4 linked regions of the Homo sapiens genome follow. The protein of the gene in region 3 interacts with the protein of the main gene of each other region in a pairwise test. Each region holds a gene or a part of one and is shown on either strand. Other genes may lie near its edges.

What was found. The genes of interacting proteins can lie anywhere in the genome.
Region 1: the proteins of CCDC14 (region 3) and CEP63 interact in binary tests that used the Homo sapiens proteins (3 or more experiments, as listed by UniProt).
Region 2: the proteins of CCDC14 (region 3) and PEX5 interact in binary tests that used the Homo sapiens proteins (3 or more experiments, as listed by UniProt).
Region 4: the proteins of CCDC14 (region 3) and DDX6 interact in binary tests that used the Homo sapiens proteins (3 or more experiments, as listed by UniProt).

What each region holds. Positions count from the first base shown.
Region 1 is NC_000003.12:134,491,945-134,497,270, reverse strand, and holds part of CEP63 (centrosomal protein of 63 kDa), read right to left. Parts: intron 1,976-5,326; coding exon of another isoform or gene 1,951-1,975; coding exon 1,907-1,950; intron 1-1,906. UniProt on the Homo sapiens protein: Required for normal spindle assembly.
Region 2 is NC_000012.12:7,199,074-7,204,399, reverse strand, and holds part of PEX5 (peroxisomal biogenesis factor 5), read right to left. Parts: coding exon 5,287-5,326; intron 2,650-5,286; coding exon 2,559-2,649; intron 2,160-2,558; coding exon 2,049-2,159; intron 1,789-2,048; coding exon 1,696-1,788; intron 969-1,695; coding exon 849-968; intron 1-848.
Region 3 is NC_000003.12:123,932,604-123,937,929, forward strand, and holds part of CCDC14 (coiled-coil domain-containing protein 14), read right to left. Parts: intron 1,153-5,326; coding exon 1,070-1,152; intron 1-1,069. UniProt on the Homo sapiens protein: Negatively regulates centriole duplication. Negatively regulates CEP63 and CDK2 centrosomal localization.
Region 4 is NC_000011.10:118,751,951-118,757,276, reverse strand, and holds part of DDX6 (probable ATP-dependent RNA helicase DDX6), read left to right. Parts: coding exon 1-106; intron 107-953; coding exon 954-1,017; intron 1,018-1,773; coding exon 1,774-1,875; intron 1,876-2,389; coding exon 2,390-2,565; 3' UTR 2,566-2,572; intron 2,573-5,179; 3' UTR 5,180-5,326.

The DNA.
Region 1 (5,326 bases), about 11 Mb from region 3:
AGTTAAACTAAAAAGTTTTTGCACGGCAAAGGAAACAATAGAGTCAAAGACAACTTGTAGAATGGGAGAAAATATTTGCAAACTATTCATTCAACAAGGGACTAAACATCCAGAATATACAAGAAAAACAACTCAACAGCAAAAAAACAAAAAACCCTATTAAAATGTGGGCAAAGGATTTGAATAGACATTTCTCTAAAGAAGACATACAAATGGCCAAAAGGTGTATGAAAAAATGGTCGACACCACTAAATCACCAGGAAAATGCAAGTGAAAACCACAATGATTCATCTCACCCCAGTTAGAATGATTATCAAAAAGACAAAATATAACAAATGCTGGGGGGGATGTGGACAAAAGGGAACTCTCATATGCTGTTGGTGAGAATGTAAAATTAGTACAGCCATTATGGAAAACTAAATGGAGTTTTCTAAAAAACTAAAAATAGAACTACCATATTGTATATAGCACCCTTAACATAAGTAACTCCATTTTAGAAAGAGATTGCATCTCACATTTCAAAAGACATCATGCCCACAGGGACCCGATGTTCACCTTATCAATAAAGACTGCACTCAATCAGATAATGACATAAACAGGCACAATATTTCACTATCAGTTATCACCAGAAGATTCTGTGGCCACAAAAAGAGCAAGACTTTACCAGCTCAAAACAGCTGTCTTGATAACAGCCTGTCTGGCTGTCACTTGTGATCAGCACCTGGCATCTGTCACCAAAGGCTCCTCCTTGCAAGAATGTTGACAACCGTCCAGATCAGGCCAGAATATTCTCTTTGTCCAGTTGTTCTCTTTGGACTAGTTCTTTAGCCCCCCCCCCCTTTTTTTTCTATCCTTTTCTCCTGTTAAATGTTACTTTGTTTGATGTGGAATGTTTACACTGCAACATTTACATATATTAATACACTATTATGTATGGTTTGCAATACTGACTGACTTGTGGAGAGGCTTGAGCCTGTATGCCCATGGCTCTGACTATTGAGTGAACTGGTAGTACTAGGGGGAAATGCCTCCTTGGGAACTCCATGTAGCTTGTGGCTTTTATGACTGAAATAGCATCAATAAAAGTTTGCTCTTGTAGAAAAGACACAAACATGTATGGACCTGGTTATGTCTGACTTTGCACCACTCACAACACATATGATTCAGAAAGCACACTATTGGGTAATCTATCCAAAGGAAAGGAAATCAGTATGTGAAAGGGATACTTGTACCCCCATGTTTATTGCAGCATTATTCACAATAACCAAGATATGGAATTGACTTGAGTGTCCAACAGCAGATTAATGGATAAAGAAAATGTCAGAAATATATCCATCATGGAATACTATTCAGCCATAAAAAAGAATGAAGCCCTGTTATTTGCAGCAACATGGATAAAACTGGTGGTCGTTAAGTGAAATAATAGGCACAGAAAGACAAATATCTCATGTTCTCATTCATATGTGGGGTCTAAAAAAGTTCACCTCATGGAGGTAGAGAGTAGAACGATGGTTACCAGAGGCTGGGAAGGGGTTGGGGGTGAAGAATGTTTGGTTAATGGGTACAAACCATACAGTTAGGTAGAAGAGTAAGCTCTAGTGTTAAATAGCACAGTAAGGTGACTACTAAGTAACTAGTATGTAACTAGTTAAGTAATTAGCACAGTCGGGTGACTAGCACAGTAAGGTTCCTTAAACTTTAAAAATTTACTATATATTTCAAAGTAGCTAGAAGAATTGAAATGTTCCCAACACAAAAAATGATAAATGCTTGAGCTGATAGGTATACTAAATACCCTTATTTGATCATTACACATTATATGTATGTATCAAAGTATCATGTGAACCCTATAAATATGTAATCATGTATTAACCAAAAAAATTAATTTTAAAAAAAGCAAACTTACCCACCATGCCCTCGATTTTGTATTCCTTCTAACAAAGCCTCCATCACCAAATCCCCTTTGTTTTGGCAACTGACAAAGAAAAAAATATCAGTCATGAGACAATTCATTTCTTCAGTTCTAACATTCTAACTTACAACTTAAGAATGTGAATGAAAGCATACATAATAATGAAAAAATGCAGCACTTCTTAAGATGACTGTAGAAGCAGTCAAAGAACATCACTTCAGGAATACTAGGAACAAACTATTTCGGACTAAAACAGAATAACTTAAAAATATCTGAATTGCGGTTGACACTCTCTCCGTGTAAATATCAAATATCTCATTGTTCTTTGCCTAATTCCTAATGTCGGGTGAGCAGGGGTGGAGGTGGGATCTCTCTAGCAGACGGATACACAAACTCCCTTAACAAAATGAGAAAGAAATGGGTTCACACATGTCAGAGGGAAAGTATAGCTTTTTAAAAATTAAAGAGATAGTATAAAAAATGCGAAGTGTACTGAGATTAAACTCTTTGGTCTATCATGGGAAAGCCTACTCACTCCTGAAGACAGGCTCATAGAGCTTCCTGCATGCAACATCCTCTCTCCACCGAAAGGCAGCCACAGGGCCCTCCCACCTCTGCACTTCATTTGCTCCCAGTGCTTAATACGTTCTTTCATAGGAGTTGCACCACACTGGAAGTGAGTTTTTTACATACTATTTTTCCTTACTAGACTATTCATCCCTCCAGGGCAGAAACCCAATTTTATTCATCTCTGCAGCTGCAGAGCTCAACGCAGCATTTCAACATGGCACGTGGCAGATTATTTTGGCTGAACTTAACTCCCCTCCCTCTTTTACCTACCCTCTCCCCCATGCAAACTGGTCACAGCTGGGGAACTACATGAAGGGTCTAGCAGAGAAAGAGGGAACGGGAGATAGAAGACTGCCATATAAACAGCAAGATACAGTTGGGTGCGGTGGCTCACGCCTGTAATCCTAGAACTTGGGAGGCCGAGGGAGGCGGATCACCTGAGGTCAGGAGTTTGAGACCAGCCTGGCCAACATGGTAAAACTCCGCCTCTACCAAAAAAAAAAAAAATTAGCTGGGCATGGTGGCATGCACCTGTAGTTCCAGCCATGGGGAGGCTGAGGTAGGAAAATCGCTTGAAGTCGGGAGGCGGAGGTTGCAGTGATCCGAGATCACACCATTGCACTACAGCCTGGGTGGCAGACAGAGATTCCATCTCAAATAAATAAATAAATAAATAAATAAATAAATAAATAAATATAAAATAAAGGGTAAGATACACCATGAAGAAAGGTGACAGTGAGAAAGGAAAGAGGACCCTTAAACTCAGTAGTGTTGATTAATATGTGTATGCTTCTCGCCTTTTATAATAAATCTTCAAAATGTTCAATGTCAAACCACTTTTCATTCCAAAATGCTTTTTCCTTAAACCCTTAAGACAATAACCAGACTGTGGTGTAGAGGTTCTGCCCCTGGGCTAATCCTCATCTAAAAATTATACTGCTGTAAGAAGTAGATTATTTTACTCAACACGTAATTCAATGTTGTACTAACAACTAGATATATAGTGATGAAAGATATGGCCCCTTTCAAGGTATTAATAGTCTAGTATGGGACAGAAAAAAATGAGCCAAAAAGGCTTTCCCAGTGTGATAAATATAGTGAGAGACATGCCCAGGGTGTTCCAGAGACACAGAGGAGAATGAGAAGACTGGAAAATAGAACCACTGCACCTTATTTGCATCTATTTTTAAAGATACTAACAAACTGAGTATTAAATTATTTGTGCACAAACGTGACAGGGAGGATTTTTTTTCTAGTTGGTTTATCCTACATATTACACCAAAATTGCAAAAATAAAAACCTAAAGAAAAAGGTTCCCATGTTTTACTCCACTTTCAAATCACAATACAGTCCAACTACAATGCAACCAAGATTCCATGTTTTGGTCCACTCTAGGAGAACTGGGAGGCAGTACACGGTCCACACCACACTAGATGGAGACCCAGGATACAGTCCTACTCTGCAACTAACTAGCTTTATATTCTCGGACTTGTTTTAACATCTGCAAAATGAGGGGCATGAACAATATTCTCTAAGGTTTCTTCCAGCTTTTTCATGGGTTCTAACAGCCAATTAAATGTCCACTGTAAGTAGCATGCTCCTGACAACCATACACGGATACTTAACTAACATGTAGGAAAGTGCTATTCTTATTGACAGTGCTATCACAGTTATTCAAAATTATCATTAGTAAAATTATACTTATTTAGGTCATGTTATTCTTAAACATTAATATATTTAGTAATATACATTAATATATTTTCTATGACTATTTAATAATATACTTAGAAGTTAAGTTACTGAATGTTCAACAGCTGCCTTGTACACATTGTCTAAATCAATCTTCACTATACTCATAAAAGACAGATACTATTACTTTGAGAAAACAGGCTTAGAGAGTTAAATAACTTGACTATGATAAACTAAAAATTATAGTCCTGGATTCAACCTAGACATTGTGGCAATCAATTGAGTCACAATCGATGTGCAACCTTTATATATTTTACAGTATTCTATATCTTAAAATATATCAGCCTATCTTTTGGCTTAATAGTGTCTTTGCAATAAAAAAAGAAATTAAACTGAAGTATGACATCACTACTGTGGCCACCAGGTGGCAGCAGCACAATAATGAAATAGTCACATAAGAAATATTGCTATTTTAGAAATCAAAATGGTCTAAGATAGAGATTCCTGTTTAAAAAAAAAAAAAAAAAGGAGGGAAGTGGACCAGTAATATCCTATGTGAGAAATAAAGTAAACTTACTAATGTGCAAAGTGTTTCTGTAATACCTTCACCATCTGCCTGGTGCCAAACACCATCAATTCTCAGGATCAGGCAAATAGTAAGGGCTGATTTTCTGTGGATGTTTGTCATCTGAGTTGCTCATAGTTATATCACTGATTCTTTTCCTAACCAACCTGACCATCATTCAACTCTATGCACTATGTCACTTTGATTTCTTCTTTGCATGTGCCATATAATTACATAAAATTAGACCATCCTGGCTAACACGGTGAAACCCCGTCTCTACTAAAAATACAAAAATTAGCCGGGCATGGTGGCGCGCGCCTGTAGTCCCAGCTACACGGGAGGCTGAGGCAGGAGAATGGCGTGAACCCGGGAGGCGGAGCTTGCAGTGAGTCAAGATCGCGCCACTGCACTCCAGCCTGGGCGACAGAGCAAAACTCCGTCTCAAAAAAAAAAAAAAAAAAAAAGAATACAAATAGAATGTCTTATAATAGGCAAATCTTTGAAATTCATTAACATAGACTTTATGAGCTAGAAAGCACTTCAGGCCTCTAATTTAACTTTATCATTTTACAGATCAGGAAAAATATCAT
Region 2 (5,326 bases), on a different chromosome or scaffold from region 3:
ATAGCTCCCTTATTACATCAAGATCCATCTCCAGCACCCTGGTTTGCATCTCAGGCCCTGGTTCCAGCCCCACAATACTTTCCCAACCAGATCTGAACTGAGAAAAAGACATCACTACTCACATCCCCAGTTCCTGTTTTGCCTTTTTTCAAAACCAAGTGATTCTTTCCCCTCTTCATGTTTCAACTCAGGAGCTCAGTTATTAAACACATCCCCAAATATCCTACAACCCACAGGTAGATTTGTTTTTCAGTAAGACCCCAGAAGTAACATATGCTTCTAAGTCAACAGCACATGCTATAGGCAAAATGCAATCATCTTTCATACTACTAAGAAATTTCCCTAATATTTAAGTTATCTAATATAAATTCTTTGAAAACCCTAAATTAGGGCAAGTGGCTACTACCTATAAAAGATAAGAACTTAAAATGAATATGTGAGTTTAAAAAGTAAACAGATATTAAGATGTGGAGGCAAAGGGATAGTCTGTCCACTAACACTCCCCACCAAAGGAGTCAGCAGTCTTCTCAAAAAGCTCCCAATCTGACCTCCAAGCAGAGCTACTTCCTCTGTGCTTTTAATGCAGCAAGCATGTGCAAACCTCCTTCACAGGTGTTATGTACTGGACTGTCGTTATTGACAAAGATAGTCTCATTAACATCTATATCCCAAGAATAAAGTTTATACTCAATCACTGAAGAGGAAGGGCAAGGGAATTATTCAGACTTCTTTTCGTGGAAAGGGACTCAAGAAAATACTTAAAAGCACCCTTCAAATTCAGGATTAAAGGAAAGACGTTAAAAAGAAGGAAGTTCTGGAACCTGAAAAACTAAGAGTTTTTACCTCACCTTATCATAGGTAGCTGACGTAAGGTCATCATAGTCAGAAAGCCAGGGGTGGGCCTCAGCATCCCGTTTTGCCATCTCCTCCAACTCTGCCTGCAACTTGTCCCAGAAATCGACATCAGACTGTAAGGAAGGGAAAGCAGATAGAAAAAGGAGATCCATCATGACCACCCCACCCCACACTCAGCTCTGCTGGGATTCTCTAAGGCAGCAGTTCTTGAATTTCAATATGTTTAAGAATCATCTGAATAAGTTTTTTAAAATGCAAATGGCCAGATGCTATCCCCAGATACTGATTTAGTAGTCTGGGGTGATGGCCAGAAATGTAATGTAGTGCAGTGCAGTGCAGTGCAGTGCAGTGCAGTGCAGTGCATAGTTTAGTTTAGTTTTTTGTTTGAGACAGAGTTTCACTCTCGTTGCCCAGGCTAGAGTGCAATGGCGTGATCTCATCTCGTTGCAACCTCCACCTCCCAGTTTCAAACATTTCTCCTGCCTCAGCCTCCCAAGTAGCTGGGATTACAGGCATGCGCCAACACACCACGCTAATTTTGTATTTTTAGTAGAGACATGGGGTTTCTCCATGTTGTTCAGACTGGTCTCGAACTCCTAACCTCAGGTGATCCACCCACCTCGGGCTCCCAAAGTGCTGAGATTACAGGCATGAGCCACCATGCCTGGCCCAGAAATCTGCATTTTTCAACAGCACCCACCCCATCCCCAAGCAACTCTGACACAGATGATCCAGGTCCACTATGAAATACAATTTGCATCATCTTTGATGTTCATACACCCACTCACTCCAAGGAGTGTTTTCTTTTGGGGTGTCTGCTCCTGCACTATCTGCTCTCACCTCTATAGCTGACTTGGCTCGTTCAAACTCCATATCAAGGGCAGATGTGTTTACTGGTCTTGTGAACTGGTCAACCCAGGCATCTGATGTACCCTGCGACAAAAAAGGATGGTCAGTACCACTACCACCAACTTTCTATCCATCAGACGCACACTAAATACCCACTAACCACCACCAACCTGGGTACTTCTGAGAAAATCATTCTCAGAATCTCTTTCCCACCCACTTGGGACCTGGATGCTATCAAGACAAGCTGGTCTTATCCTTCCCCATCTGGGACCACTGACCACTGAACCCATGGCCTGGGGCATCAGCTGGCTCTGAAGTGGGACTGGAAAGTGACAATGTCCTACCTGCTGCTGTATAAACTCTGCTGCCCACTGTTCTGCCTGAGCTCGGCCCGACCCTGCACCGGACTCCAGGGACACCTGCCCTTCGCCAATCTGCCGCACGAATTTCAGGAACTGGGGCACAGAGACACACACAGGCCACTTGGGAAAGGACTTCCAGGTGTGCACTCTCAACCATGCCCAAGAGGACCCTGTACTCACCCCTCCCCTGACCATCTCTAGCTGCAGACAAGATATGCTAAAGACCCTAAAAGAGGTAGAGAGCAAAAAGAAAGGGATTTCTGGCTCTAAAGACTTGCAAAGGCATCAGAAAAAAGAGTTAGTAGGCAAGGAGATGAGGGAATGAACACTAGAAGGAAGAGGCAGGATCTTAAGTCTCTGTTCTATAGACAGGAACGAAGAGACCTAAGATCTCTTCTCCTTCTCTTTAAACTAAACTGGGGTAAGAAAAGCAAGATTCTTGCCTTCCAAAACCAGCTCTGCTGGGCAAAGCAGCAGAGGGATGTGGCTCACCTCAGAATTAGCCAATTTGGGGTCATCCACTTTGGCCACAAAGTCACTGGCCGTGTGCTGCAGATCCTCCTCAGGATGATATTCATCATACCTGGAACGGGTAAGAACTAATTTTACACATTAGTCTGCCATCACCCTCCCCATGCTACTCCCCACTCCTAGCCCATGACAATGACAGTTCCTGTGAGGGAACTCCATTCTCCTGTTGAGAACCTACAAACTCCAATTTGCATTATAGAAGGACATTTGGGCAGGAGTGTGAAAGTACTAGCTACATCCTTCTAGCTCTCCCTTTCCCAAACATATCTTTGCATACAGATGGGATAGTAGCAGGCTCAAAATTAAGAAGGGAACAAGGTAAAATTATGAACTTTAAGATGAAGTTATGAACGTCATATAGGATAGTTAGGATTCTTGAAAAATATATATATATTTACCTATATACATATATTTTAAAAGTCTGAAAACTCCCTTCCTCCCAAATATAGCTGATATGTATATATACGTGTATGTGTGTATGTATATACATGTGTATGTGTATGTGTGTATACATGTATGTCTATGTGTGTGTATACATGTGTACGCATGTATCTACATGTTTACATATGTATACGTGTGTATATACATGTATGTGCACATGTATGTGTATGTATGCGTGTGTACATATGTGTATGTGTGTATATATGTGTGTGCGTGTGTGTGTGTGCACGCACACATGCATGCGCTTTTGGTTTTTTAAAGACAAGGTCTTACTGTGTTCCTCGGGCTAGACTTGACCTCCTGGGCCCAAGCAATCCTCCCACCTCAGCTTCCTGAGTACAGGCACACAACCACTGTGTCCTTGACTACATTTCAACCATAAATTCACAGGAGTAATAACCCAAGGGGAAATCTTAAAGAATAAAGTAAGCCCTCTCCCTCTCCCTCTCCCTCTCCCTACGGTCTCTCTCCCCCTCTCTTTCCACGGTCTCCCTCTGATGCCGAGCCGAAGCTGGACTGTACTGCTGCCATCTCGGCTCCCTGCAACCTCCCTGCCTGATTCTCCTGCTTCAGCCTGCCGAGTGCCTGCAATTGCAGGCACGCGCCGCCATGCCTGACTGGTTTTCGTATTTTTTTGGTGGAGACGGGGTTTCGCTGTGTTGGCCGGGCTGGTCTCCAGCTCCTAACCGCGAGTGATCCGCCAGCCTCGGCCTCCCGAGGTGCCGGGATTGCAGACGGAGTCTCGTTCACTCAGTGCTCAATGGTGCCCAGGCTGGAGTGCAGTGGCGTGATCTCGGCTCGCTACAACCTCCACCTCCCAGCCGCCTGCCTTGGCCTCCCAAAGTGCCGAGATTGCAGCCTCTGCCTGGCCGCCACCCCATCTGGGAAGTGAGGAGCGTCTCTGCCTGGCCGCCCATCGTCTGGGATGTGAGGAGCCCCTCTGCCTGGCTGCCCAGTCTGGAAAGTGAGGAGCGTCTCTGCCCGGCCGCCATCCCATCTAGGAAGTGAGGAGCGCCTCTTCCCAGCCGCCATCCCATCGAGGAAGTGAGGAGCGTCTCTGCCCGACCACCCATCGTCTGAGATGTGAGGAGCGCCTCTGCCCCGCCGCCCCGTCTGGGATGTGAGGAGCGCCTCTGCCTGGCCGCGACCCCGTCTGGGAGGTGAGGAGCGTCTCTGCCCGGCCGCCCCGTCTGAGAAGTGAGGAGACCCTCTGCCCGGCAGCCGCCCCGTCTGGGAAGTGAGGAGCGTCTCCGCCCGGCAGCCACCCCGTCCGGGAGGGAGGTGGGGGTCAGCCCCCCGCCCGGCCAGCCGCCCCGTCCGGGAGGGAGGTGCGGGTCAGCCCCCCGCCTGGCCAGCCGCCCCGTCCGGGAGGGAGGCGGGGGGTCAGCCCCCCGCCCGGCCAGCCGCCCCGTCCAGGAGGGAGGTGGGGGTCAGCCCCCCGCCCGGCCAGCCGCCCCGTCCGGGAGGGAGGTGGGGGTCAGCCCCCTGCCCGGCCAGCCGCCCCGTCCGGGAGGGAGGTGGGGGTCAGCCCCCCGCCCGGCCAGCCGCCCCGTCCAGAAGGTGAGGGGCGCCTCTGCCCGGCCGCCCCTACTGGGAAGTGAGGAGCCCCTCTGCCTGGCCACCACCCCGTCTGGGAGGTGTACCCAATAGCTCATTGAGAACGGGCCATGATGACAATGGCGGTTTTGTGGAATAGAAAAGGGGGAAAGGTGGGGAAAAGATTGAGAAATCCGATGGTTGCTGTGTCTGTGTAGAAAGAAGTAGACATGGGAGACTTTTCATTTTGTTCTGTACTAAGAAAAATTCTTCTGCCTTGGGATCCTGTTGATCTATGACCTTACCCCCAACCCTGTGCTCTCTGAAACATGTGCTGTGTTCACTCAGGGTTAAATGGATTAAGGGCGGTGCAAGATGTGCTTTGTTAAACAGATGCTTGAAGGCAGCATGCTCTTTAAGAGTCATCACCACTCCCTAATCTCAAGTACCCAGGGACACAAACACTGCGGAAGGCCGCAGGGTCCTCTGCCTAGGAAAACCAGAGACCTTTGTTCACTTGCTTATGTGCTGACCTTCCCTCCACTATTGTCCTATGACCCTGCCAAATCCCCCTCTGCAAGAAACACCCAAGAATGATAAAAAAAAAAAAAAAAAAGAATAAAGTAAGTTGGTTCGAGAACGTGGATGGAGGAGGCTGGGAAAACTGTCCATACTCCTTTCACGGGATTCGGAAAGAGGTATCTGAACTCACCAGCGATCGGTGGCTGTTCCCTCAGGTTCTCCCAGCCACA
Region 3 (5,326 bases):
GTGGCATTTGAGTCTTTGTCAGGCTTAGGAAAAGTTCCCCTCCAAAAAAATAAAAAAATAAAAATTCTTATATTTTCTTCTGGTACTATTATAGTTTCTTTATTAAGCTCTGTGATCATTAAGGACAATTTGGCAATATCTGTCACAATTGCAACTGTATATACCCTTTGGCTCAACAATTCTACTGCTATAAATCTATCCTACAAAAATGCTGGCCAGGCGTGGTGGCTCATTGTCTGTAATCCCACACCTTGGGAGGCCGAGGTGAGTGGATCACTTGAGGTCAGGAGTTCAAGACCAGCCTGGCCAACATGATGAAACCCTGTCTCTAATAAAAATACAAAAATTAGACAGGCGTGGTGGCAGGCGCCTATAATCCCAGACACTTGAGAGGCTGAGGGAAGAGAATCACTTGAACCTTGGAGGCAGAGGTTGCAGTGAGACACGATCGCACCACTGCACTCCAGCCTGGGCCACAGAGTGACGCCGTCTCAAAACAAACAAACAAACAAACAAACAAACAAACAAAGCTGACATATATGCACAAAGACATATACAAAGATTTTCACTGCAATGTTGTTTGCACTGGGAAAAAAGGGGAAAGTACTATTAGCAAAGGACCATATTATGGTAGACCTGGATAAGCAGAATACCCAAGTAATTCTTAAAGAGAAAGATGCATAATTATGTATTTTGATAGACAAAAGTGTCCATTATATGTTAAGTGAATAAACAGAAGCTGTGGAAAAGTATGTACAGTGTGATCTCATTTTTAAAAAAGTACATATATAGTTCTATTTGTGCCTGGCACACAGTAGGTATTCAGTAAGTGTTAAATAAATCAATTATATATGAAGAGAAGATATGTAAAAGGAAACACACTCCTGTATTTCAAAACAAACAAACAAAAAAAGGTGTATATTATTGGGAAGTGACAGCATCTTTTATTTTCTTATGTTTCTACAATATTTTAAATTTATCCCCTCAAAGTAATTACAAAAGCTCAATTCTTTATCAACATTTCCGGAGCCACAAATAATTTATCAATCCTTAAAGTTCTTTTACCTACATTCAAGGTTGCAATCCACAGCACCAGATGGTTTTTGAGTTTTCTGTTGTTCTCTGAGTTGCTGGTTCAAAATTCTCAACTGCCTAAAGAAATAATGAAGAACTATGAATGCAAGCATACCAAGCCAATTTAATAGTATACATGTGATAGCCTATCAAAAAAGATAAAACATAAACCCACTAAGACAGCAGAAGTCCATCTCATCCCCAAAAGACAAAAACTAAATAAACAAAACAAAAACAAAACCATACTACTATTATTATGAGGCCTGAGATAATTTTTAAGGTTGCCTGAAACAACATAAAACCTCCCCTCATGGGCCAGGCGCGGTGGCTCACGCCTGTAATCCCAGCACTTTGGGAGGTCGAGGTGGGCGGATCACCTGAGGTCAGGAGTTTGAGACTAGCCTGGCCAACATGGCGAAACCCCATCTCTACTAAAAATACAAAAATTAGCTGGGCGTAGTGGCGCGTGCCTGTAATCCCAGCTACTTGGGAGGCTGAGGCAGGAGAATTGCTTGAACCTGGGAGGTGGAGGTTGCAGTGAGTGAGATCGCACCACTGCATTCCAGCCTGGCGAAAGAGTGAGACTCTGCCTCAAAAAAAAAAAAAAAAAAAAAAAAACCCTCATGAGGAAAGTGTTAATTTCTCTTTTTTGTCTCTTCAGTGATTTGTTGTTTTTTTTCTATTTCTTTCCTTTTCTATCTGCTCATGCTGTTTCTCATCGTCTTTCTGTGTATCTTCATCACTGTAGTTAATCATCTACTTTTTAAAAGATTTGTCATTACTATCAACTAGAATACCTACAAGCACTGACTGCTATCAGACATCTATCTGCCTGATGTTTGTCATATGCTGAAACACAAATCTATGCTTCTAATAATTTTATTAGATGGAAAAGTTAATGGTCTTAAGTAACGAGAATATTAACAGGCTACAAATCTGCCCTGTTACAATGAACTTCACAATATGTATCTGCTTCACAAATAGAAACATATGCAAGTGTTTTCTTTACTTCTAAGAAGTTATCGCTTATGGGGACAAAAGTTACCTCTATTATCTTTCCAGAATTACTTACCTAAAAATATTTTGCCTTAAAATATTTATTTTTGGTACTAACTCTAAAATGATAGTACCCTACCTCACATCACTCACATATATTAATTTCGAGTTGATTAAAGTGATAAAATATGTAAACAAAACCCAACTATACAAGTTTTAGGGGGAAATCTACATAATCTTGAAGTCGGGAAGGCATTTCTAAGTGAAACTCAATATCCAGCAAGCATCAAGGAAAAGAACGAAAGATTTAACCATAGCAAAATTTGAAACCTGTAGAATTAAAAGCCTGAAAGAAAATACCTGCACATATGTTATAGACAAGGGGTCCATAACATTTAAAGAACTCCTACAAATCAGTAAGGAAGGCAACCTAGTAAAAAGTGACAAAGGATAAGAATGAGCAGTTCACCTAAGAAATAGAAATGGCCTATAAGCATATGATAAAAATGCTCATCTTCACTAACATGAAGAATTGCAAATTTAAAAGAAGGTACTTTTTGGCCATAGAATTGACAAAAATAAAAAGAAATAACATTTTCTGATGATAGTACAGGAAATGAATTAACTCAATTCATGTGATTATATCAGTATAACCATTCTGGATGGCAGTTTGAAATGTCCAACAAAATGTAAAATGTTCATAATCTCTGACAAAATTATTCTACTTCTAGGTTATCAAGCATCAGAAACAGTTTTACATGTGCAAAAGCATCTCCCACCTTGTAGATACATACAAGGATGTTCACAACAGCAATTATTTAATAGTGCCAAGTTGGAAACAACTTAAAATGCTACATAAATTATGGTACATCCATATATGAAATACTAATACACAGATAATAAAAAAAGCGAGAGGTCCACTTGTACTGACGTGAAAAGATCTCTGAGACACATTATGAAGTGAAAGCAGCAAGCTGCAGAACAACAGTATAATGTGAGCTTATTTTTGTTTTAATAAAATTCTGATTTTCTTTAAAGGTTTCCCCTTTACAACAGAAGCTTTCCTCGATAATCCTTTTGTATGTCCCTGGTCAGATTCTTCTCTTCCCAAACGTAACCAATCTAAACTTCTAATAATTCACTGCAAGCCTCTCATTCCTACCCTCCTCTTCTCAATTGTATACTTTCCTTTTTTCACTAAAAATAATGTGGTTTGGGGACAAACACAGTCATCCTTTGGTCCCAGGGTGTATCCATATGTGTATTAGCCCTCATTTTTTCCATCTAGTCTGATGAGTAGCCTTATCTGTGCCCTGGATCCCATTCTCCTCCTAGACCATCAAGGACTCTGCTCCTATCCCACTCCCTTTATCTTCTGTATCTGCAGTTTCTCCCTCTTTGCCAGTTCATGTGCCTAAGCCAAGAAACATATTAAAACTCTTCCCATATTTTAAAAAAATTCCCTCCAACCTAACTGTACAAGTAGCTACTTTCATTCCTCTCATTCCCTGCTTTCAGGGCTAGGCTTTTAAAAAAATATTCTATTTAAAATGATACATGATAAAAACAGAAAAAAGGATATTTTAAAAATTGATGTTACACATGCTATTTTAAGATATGTACGAAATTTAAATATACTGGATTTTAAAAAAGGAAAAGAACTGCTGCTACTTAGGCAAATATTTCTTTTATTCAAGTCATTCTTTTTTTTTTAGACAGCTTGAGATAAAACTGACATACTATAAACTACATAAATTTAAAGTGTGTCATTTTATTTTCTGCCATATGATGTAGTAAAACCACCATCACAATTAAGATATCCATCAGCAGCCATAAAAAAGAATGAGATCATGTTTTTTTGCAAGAACATGAAGGGAACTGGAGGCTATCATCCTTAGTAAACTAACGCAGAAACAAAAGCAAATACCACATTCTCACTTATAAGTGGGAGCTAAATGATAAGAACTTATTAACACAAAGAAGGAAACAACAGACACTGGGGTCTGGATGGTAGGAGGGAGGGGAAGGTGGTAGGAGGGAGAAAAGCAGAAAAGATAACTATTGTGTACTGGGCTTAATACCTGGGTGATGTAATAACATGTATAACAAACCTCCTGTGACACGTGTTTACCTATGTAACAAACCTTCACGTGTACCCTCAAAGCTAAAAATTTTTCAAAAAACATATTCATCACCCCTAAAGTTTCCTCATAGCCCTTTTCATAACTCTCTCCTCCCAGATAAGCACTTATTTATAGTTTGCATATTCTAGAATTTTATATAAATGGAATTATGGAATATATACTCTTTTAGCCTGGCTTCACTCAACATAGTAATTTTGGGATTCATCCATGCTGTTGCATGTATCAATAGTTCTTACCCTTTTATTGTTGAGTAGTATTCTACTGTATGGATATAGCACTATTTGTTTATCCATTCACCTATTGATAGACATTTGGGTTGTTTCCTATGAACACTCATCAACAAGTTTCTGTGTGGACACATGCTTTGGCTTCTCTTAAATATCTAGGAGTGGACTGGCTGGATCATATGTTAGATATATGTTTAATTTCTAAGAAACTGCCAAACTTTTTTTCCAAAGTGTTCAAATTATTTTACATTCCCATCAGTTAATTGTGAAATCCTTCACATCCCAACATTTATTAATTTTGAATTTTAGCCATTCTAATGGGTATGCAGTGGTATTTTGTCATGGTTTTAATTTTCACTTTCCTAATCATTACTGATAAGCATCTTTCTATATTCTTATTTGATATTCATATTTGATATCCACTTATTTGGTGAAGTGTCTGTTCAAATATTTTGCCCATTTTTCAACTTGATATTTAAAAATTTATACTGTCTTAAGTTCTTTATACATTCTAATACAAGTCCTTTATCGGGTACATGTTTTACAAATATTTTCTCTCAGTCTGTTGGTTGCTTCTTCATTTTTAATAAGTGTTTTTTGAAGAACTGAAGTTTTAAATTTTGATGAAGTCCACTTTACTCATTTTTTTCTAGTTTATATTTTTTGTGTTGTATTTTTAAAATCTTTCCCAATCCAAAATCCCTAAGATTTTCTCTTACGTTTCCTTTCAGAGGTTTTGTAGTTTTAGTTTATACATTAAGATCTGTGATTCATTTCAAGTCAATTTTGTATACTGTATGAGGTAAAGGTTGAGGTTCATTTTTTAAAAACATGACTCTCTCATTGTTTCAGCACTATTTATTGAAAAGAGTATTCTTTCCCCAC
Region 4 (5,326 bases), on a different chromosome or scaffold from region 3:
CCAGTCGATCATTTTCTGTAACTCCTCTCAGCGAGTTGAATTGCTAGCCAAGAAGATTTCTCAACTGGGTTATTCTTGCTTCTATATTCATGCTAAAATGAGGCAGGTGAGTATAAAACTAGAACTTGCACAAATTTAATAAGAAATCTCTTTCTTTATTTTGTTTTAATGTTCTTTTAAATGTCCTGAGTTTAAGAATAAACTGTTCCTTAGTAGCCAAAGGACCTTTCATTTTGACCTCCCTCAGGTTCAATTTTCTAGCAATAAAATAGGGATAATAGTACATATTCATAACTTACAAGGTTGTTAGGAAAATTAAGATAAATGTTTAAATGAGTACTTTGGAAGCTGTCAGGCATGATACAAATGTAAAATTTTATTCTTCCCTTCCTTTCCATGTTTAATTCTCTGTTTAATACAGTAAATAGCCACATGTGGCAATTTAAATCAGTTAAAATTAAAATAAAAAGTCAGTTTCTCAATCACAGCCACATTTCAAGTGCTCAGTTAGGCACCTGTTGCTACTGGATAGTGTATTGGAATTGGAAGTACAGACACAAATATTTCCTTTATTATAGAAGTTTTACTGGACAGCACTGCTCTGGATTTTTAAATATGGCCCCTCAGCTGGCTGATTTTTCTTTTTTTCTTTACTGTTTGCCTTTAGAAAAAGATACAATATCTAAATTTCAGAATTTGATTTAGCAAAAAATAATTTAAAACTGTAACAAAAATGACTTTTTTGTTAACTACATTATGAAATTTCGTAAGTAAACAGTTTCTGTAGACGAAGATATCAAGAACTTAACTCATTTGGTTTTGAAAGCAGCTTAATATCATGGATCACTTATAAACAGATTTTGGGTAGAACTGATCGTCTGGGAGAAATAATTATGGGAAATTTGGGGCTGTATATGAGTGTTAATCAAATGGAATACATTGCTTTCTCCTAGGAACATCGAAATCGTGTATTTCATGATTTCCGAAATGGCTTATGCCGCAATCTTGTTTGCACTGGTAAGTATTTTTGTATTTCCTTTACCCAGTGTTTTTCTCCCAAGTTGTTTTTTGCTTTCTCTGTTCATATTACATAGTGCAACCTGTGACATAGTCCGACACACCCTACCACTACTTCTAGGATTTCTGAAGTTGAAAATGAACTCTTGTCAGCTCCTGATACTGGGTTCCATATCTGAAACTTTAGAAGACTTACTCTGGCACTCATACCTCATCTCTGTCTTTTTTTTGGGGGGGGGGGGGAGGGGGATGGAATCTTTGTCACCCAGGCTGGAGTGCAGTGGTGCGATCTTGGCTCTCTGAAACCTCCACCTCCTGGGTTCAAGTGATTCTCCTGCCTCAGCCTCCCAAGTAGCTGGGATTGTGGGCGCCTGCTACCGCTTAGCCCGGCTAATTTTTGTATTTTTGGTAGAGACAGGGATTTCACCATGTTGGCCAGGCTGGTCTCGAACTCCTGACCTCAGGTGATCTTCCTGCTTTGGTCTCCCAAAGTGCTGGGATTACAGGCTTGAGTGCACCCAGCCTCTTTTAGACACATTTTTTAAAACTTGCTTACAATTACTGGAAAAAAGTAACTTGGGAGCAGAAAGTTATTTATGATAATGTGATTATGAAAGGTAATGCCAGTAATGTGCAAATGCATTTGAATAACTGAATTAAATTAATAAACTTAGGTTATGCTAGAAATATGTGTTAGTATTGTACTGAGAGACATTTCTAAATTGAAAAAATGAAAATTATCTTTTTTTTTTTAAGATCTGTTTACCCGAGGTATTGATATACAAGCTGTGAATGTGGTAATAAACTTTGATTTCCCAAAGCTGGCAGAGACCTATCTCCATCGTATTGGAAGATCAGGTGAGGAAAAAAGAGGTGATATTCTTGGTAGAAGTTCTTTTTTGAGGCGTGTAATGACTAAATTTTGTTCTTTTGTGAAATAGAGTACAGTAGCTATGAGAACAGTGAATTAACAGTAATTCAGTTGTTTGGTATTTAAGACTAATTTCTAATTCTTCTGTAGCATTTATTAAGAAAAGTTAAAATAACTGCTTAATTTGAGATGAAATTAACACATGAGAACTTCACTCATTAGGTGGTATGTTCTGTGACTGTTGTTTAATGTGTATTTTATGGCAGTTTTGACTGCCATTTTGTCATTTGAGAAAGGTGAAATGAAGTACTATTTTGGGCTGCGAAACCTGAAGTTGTAGGGAAACCTGTGTTTGAAGACCATTAAGAAGTTGTTTTGCATACTAAGAATGGCACTGAACATCATTATCAATCCTGTGTGGTTTTGCCACTGCTTGACTTGCACAATTCACATTGATTTTCATATTTTATTCATTAAAATTTTTAAACGCATGTTTTTTAGGTCGCTTTGGTCATCTTGGCTTAGCCATCAACTTGATCACATATGATGATCGCTTCAACCTGAAAAGTATTGAGGAGCAGCTGGGAACAGAAATTAAACCTATTCCGAGCAACATTGATAAGAGCCTGTATGTGGCAGAATACCACAGCGAGCCTGTAGAAGATGAGAAACCTTAACAAGCATGTACGTCCCTGACAGAACAGCTAAGAGGAACCTTTAAATGAGGGAAATCAAAATCTTCTTTCCTGGGGGAAATTTGATGTCACACCATATATAATAGCAATAAAGGGTAAAATACCCACTAGCATAAATGACAGTAAATAATATCTCTTGTGGGAGGTTGTAGTCTCATTCGAGAATCTGTAAATGTTGTTCTTGAATGCAGCTTCCCGGGTAATGTGGTAGATTAGCAGTACTTAAATTCAGAGTCCTAAAATAATGAAAGCAAAAAAGAATGTTTTTCAGCAATTTGTTTTTCTTTTTGAGACAAGGTCTCACTGTCATCCAGGCTGGAGTGCAGTGGTGCAATCATAGCTCACTGCAGCCTGGTTCTCCTGGGCTCCTGAGTAGCTGGAACTGTAGGCACATGCCACCACGCCTGCCTAATGTTTTAAATTTTTGGTAGAAACAAGGTCTTGCTTTGTTGCCTAGGCTGGTCCAGAACTCCTGAACTCCAGCAGTCCTCCTGCCTTGGCTTCCCAAAGTGTTAGGATTATAGGCGCAAGCCACTGTGCCACTGTGCCTGGCCTTTTTTGACAGTTTTGTAGGGGGGATTTTTGTTGTTTTTGTTTTTTGAGAGTCTTGCTCTGTTGCCCAGGCTGGAGTACAGTGGCACAATCACGGCCCACTGCAACCTCTGCCTCCCAGGTTCAAGCGATTCTGGTGCACCTCAGCCTCCCAAGTAGCTGGAATTACAGGCATGCTCCACCATGCCCAGCTAATTTTTGTATTTTTTAGTAGAGTTGGAGTTTCACCATGTTGGCCAGGTTGGTCTTGAACTCCTGACCTCAAGTGATCTACCCGCCTCAGCCTCCTAAAGGGAGGCTGGGATTACAGGTGTGAGCCACCACACTGCCAGCAGTTTTGAATATGAAAGTATTTACATTTCTGAAAATGTAAAATGTTTTTAGCATTTACTCTTAATTTCTAGTAAGTACATTAATCACTCTGATAAAACTATCCATAATACCTTATTAGCAAATGTTTAATCAGATTATGAGGATGGCCATCTTTTTAAAATACCCACTCTGGGCCGGGTGCGGTGGCTCACACCTGTAATCCCAGTACTTTGGGAGGCCGAGGTGGGCGGATCACGAGGTCAAGAGATCGAGACCATCCTGGCCAACATGGTGAAACCCTGTCTCTACTAAAAATACAAAAATTAGCCGGGCATGGTGACACGCACCTGTAGTCCCAGCTACTCGGGAGGCTGAGGCAGGCGAATCACTTGAACCTGGGAGGTGGAGGTTACAGTGAGCTGAGACCGCACCACTGCACTCCAGCCTGGGTGACAAAGCTAGACTCCATCTCAAAAAAAAAAAAAAAAAAAAAGCCACTTGGGCTGGCTCAGTGGCTCACACCTGTAATCCCAGCACTTTGGGAGGCCGAGGTGGGTGGATTACCTGAGGTCAGGACTTCAAGACCAGCCTGGCCAACCTGGTGAGACCCCGTGTCCACTAAAGATACAGAAAATTAGCCAGGCATGGTGGCGGGCGCCTGTAATCCCAGCTAGTCAGGAGGCTGAGGCAGGAGAATCTCTTGAACCTGGGAGGCAGAGGTTGCAGTGAGCCGAGGTCATGCCATTGCACTCGAGCCTGGGCGATAAGAGTGAAACTCTGCCTCATATATAAATAACCCACTCTGATTTCCTAGGTAATAAGAGTGAAACTCCGTCAAATACATAAATAAAATACCCACTCTGATTTCCTGGACAACCTGTCTTCCCATCTTTTTTTTATTTTTATTAAGATGGGATCTCACTATGTTGCCCCGGCTGGTTTCAAACTCCTGGGTTCAAATGATCCTCCCACTTTGGCTTCCCAGAGTGCTGGGATTATAGGTGTGAGCCACCACGCCCTGCCTCTATCATCTTTTGGTGACTATTGGGCTCTAGTTAGAAATGCATGAAACAAGGCTCAGCTTTAAGCAAGGTAGGTTGTTTCAGTATTTCCTAAAGAAAATCTGATTTGACAAAGGATAGTTTCCAAGTTATAGGTGAACATCTTACCTATTTAAGTAACCTAATGTTACTTAAATTTTTTTTCTCTTTCTTTTTTAAATAGAGACGAGGATTTACCATGTTGGCCAGGCTGGTCTCAAACTCCTGACCTCAGGTGATCCGCCCACCTCAGCCTCCCAGAGTGCTGAGATTACTGGCAGGAGCCACCTCACCCAACCAATTGTTACTTAAATAATTTTTAAATTACTCTGTACTCTTTTTTTCCTTAAGTTAAACATCAAACACAAACTCTTGGACAAGCATGAAACTAGCCAATGTTTGCTAGTACTTTGGCAGAGTATTCAGTTTGTGTAAGGTTAATTTTTTTCCCCCGGATTTGTTACGAGTGAGGGCTGCCTGCTATCAGAACATTCACATTCATTCAGGCCCCCAATCTATCTCAGGGTTGCCTACCAGAAATTATTTAATCCTATAACCAGTAGATTCTATAGTAGGCACAGGGTTAGTAGAAACTACTAGAAAAGAGCATTTGGGATGAGGATTGTGAAAACCTATGTATCCTAGTTTGTGTTGCTTTCAGAATGTTAATTTTGTATTCTCTTCTTCTGTAGGCTTTGACAAATTACAAAAGGCTCGTTTGGATCTGTGACACATCGTTTTGGGGGGAATGCTCCTCTCTTTGTGGGTTTTTCATCTTTTATTTTGGAACTATGAAGACTTAAAAGAGCTCAGACATTTTCTTTTTTTAACTGGTGAAG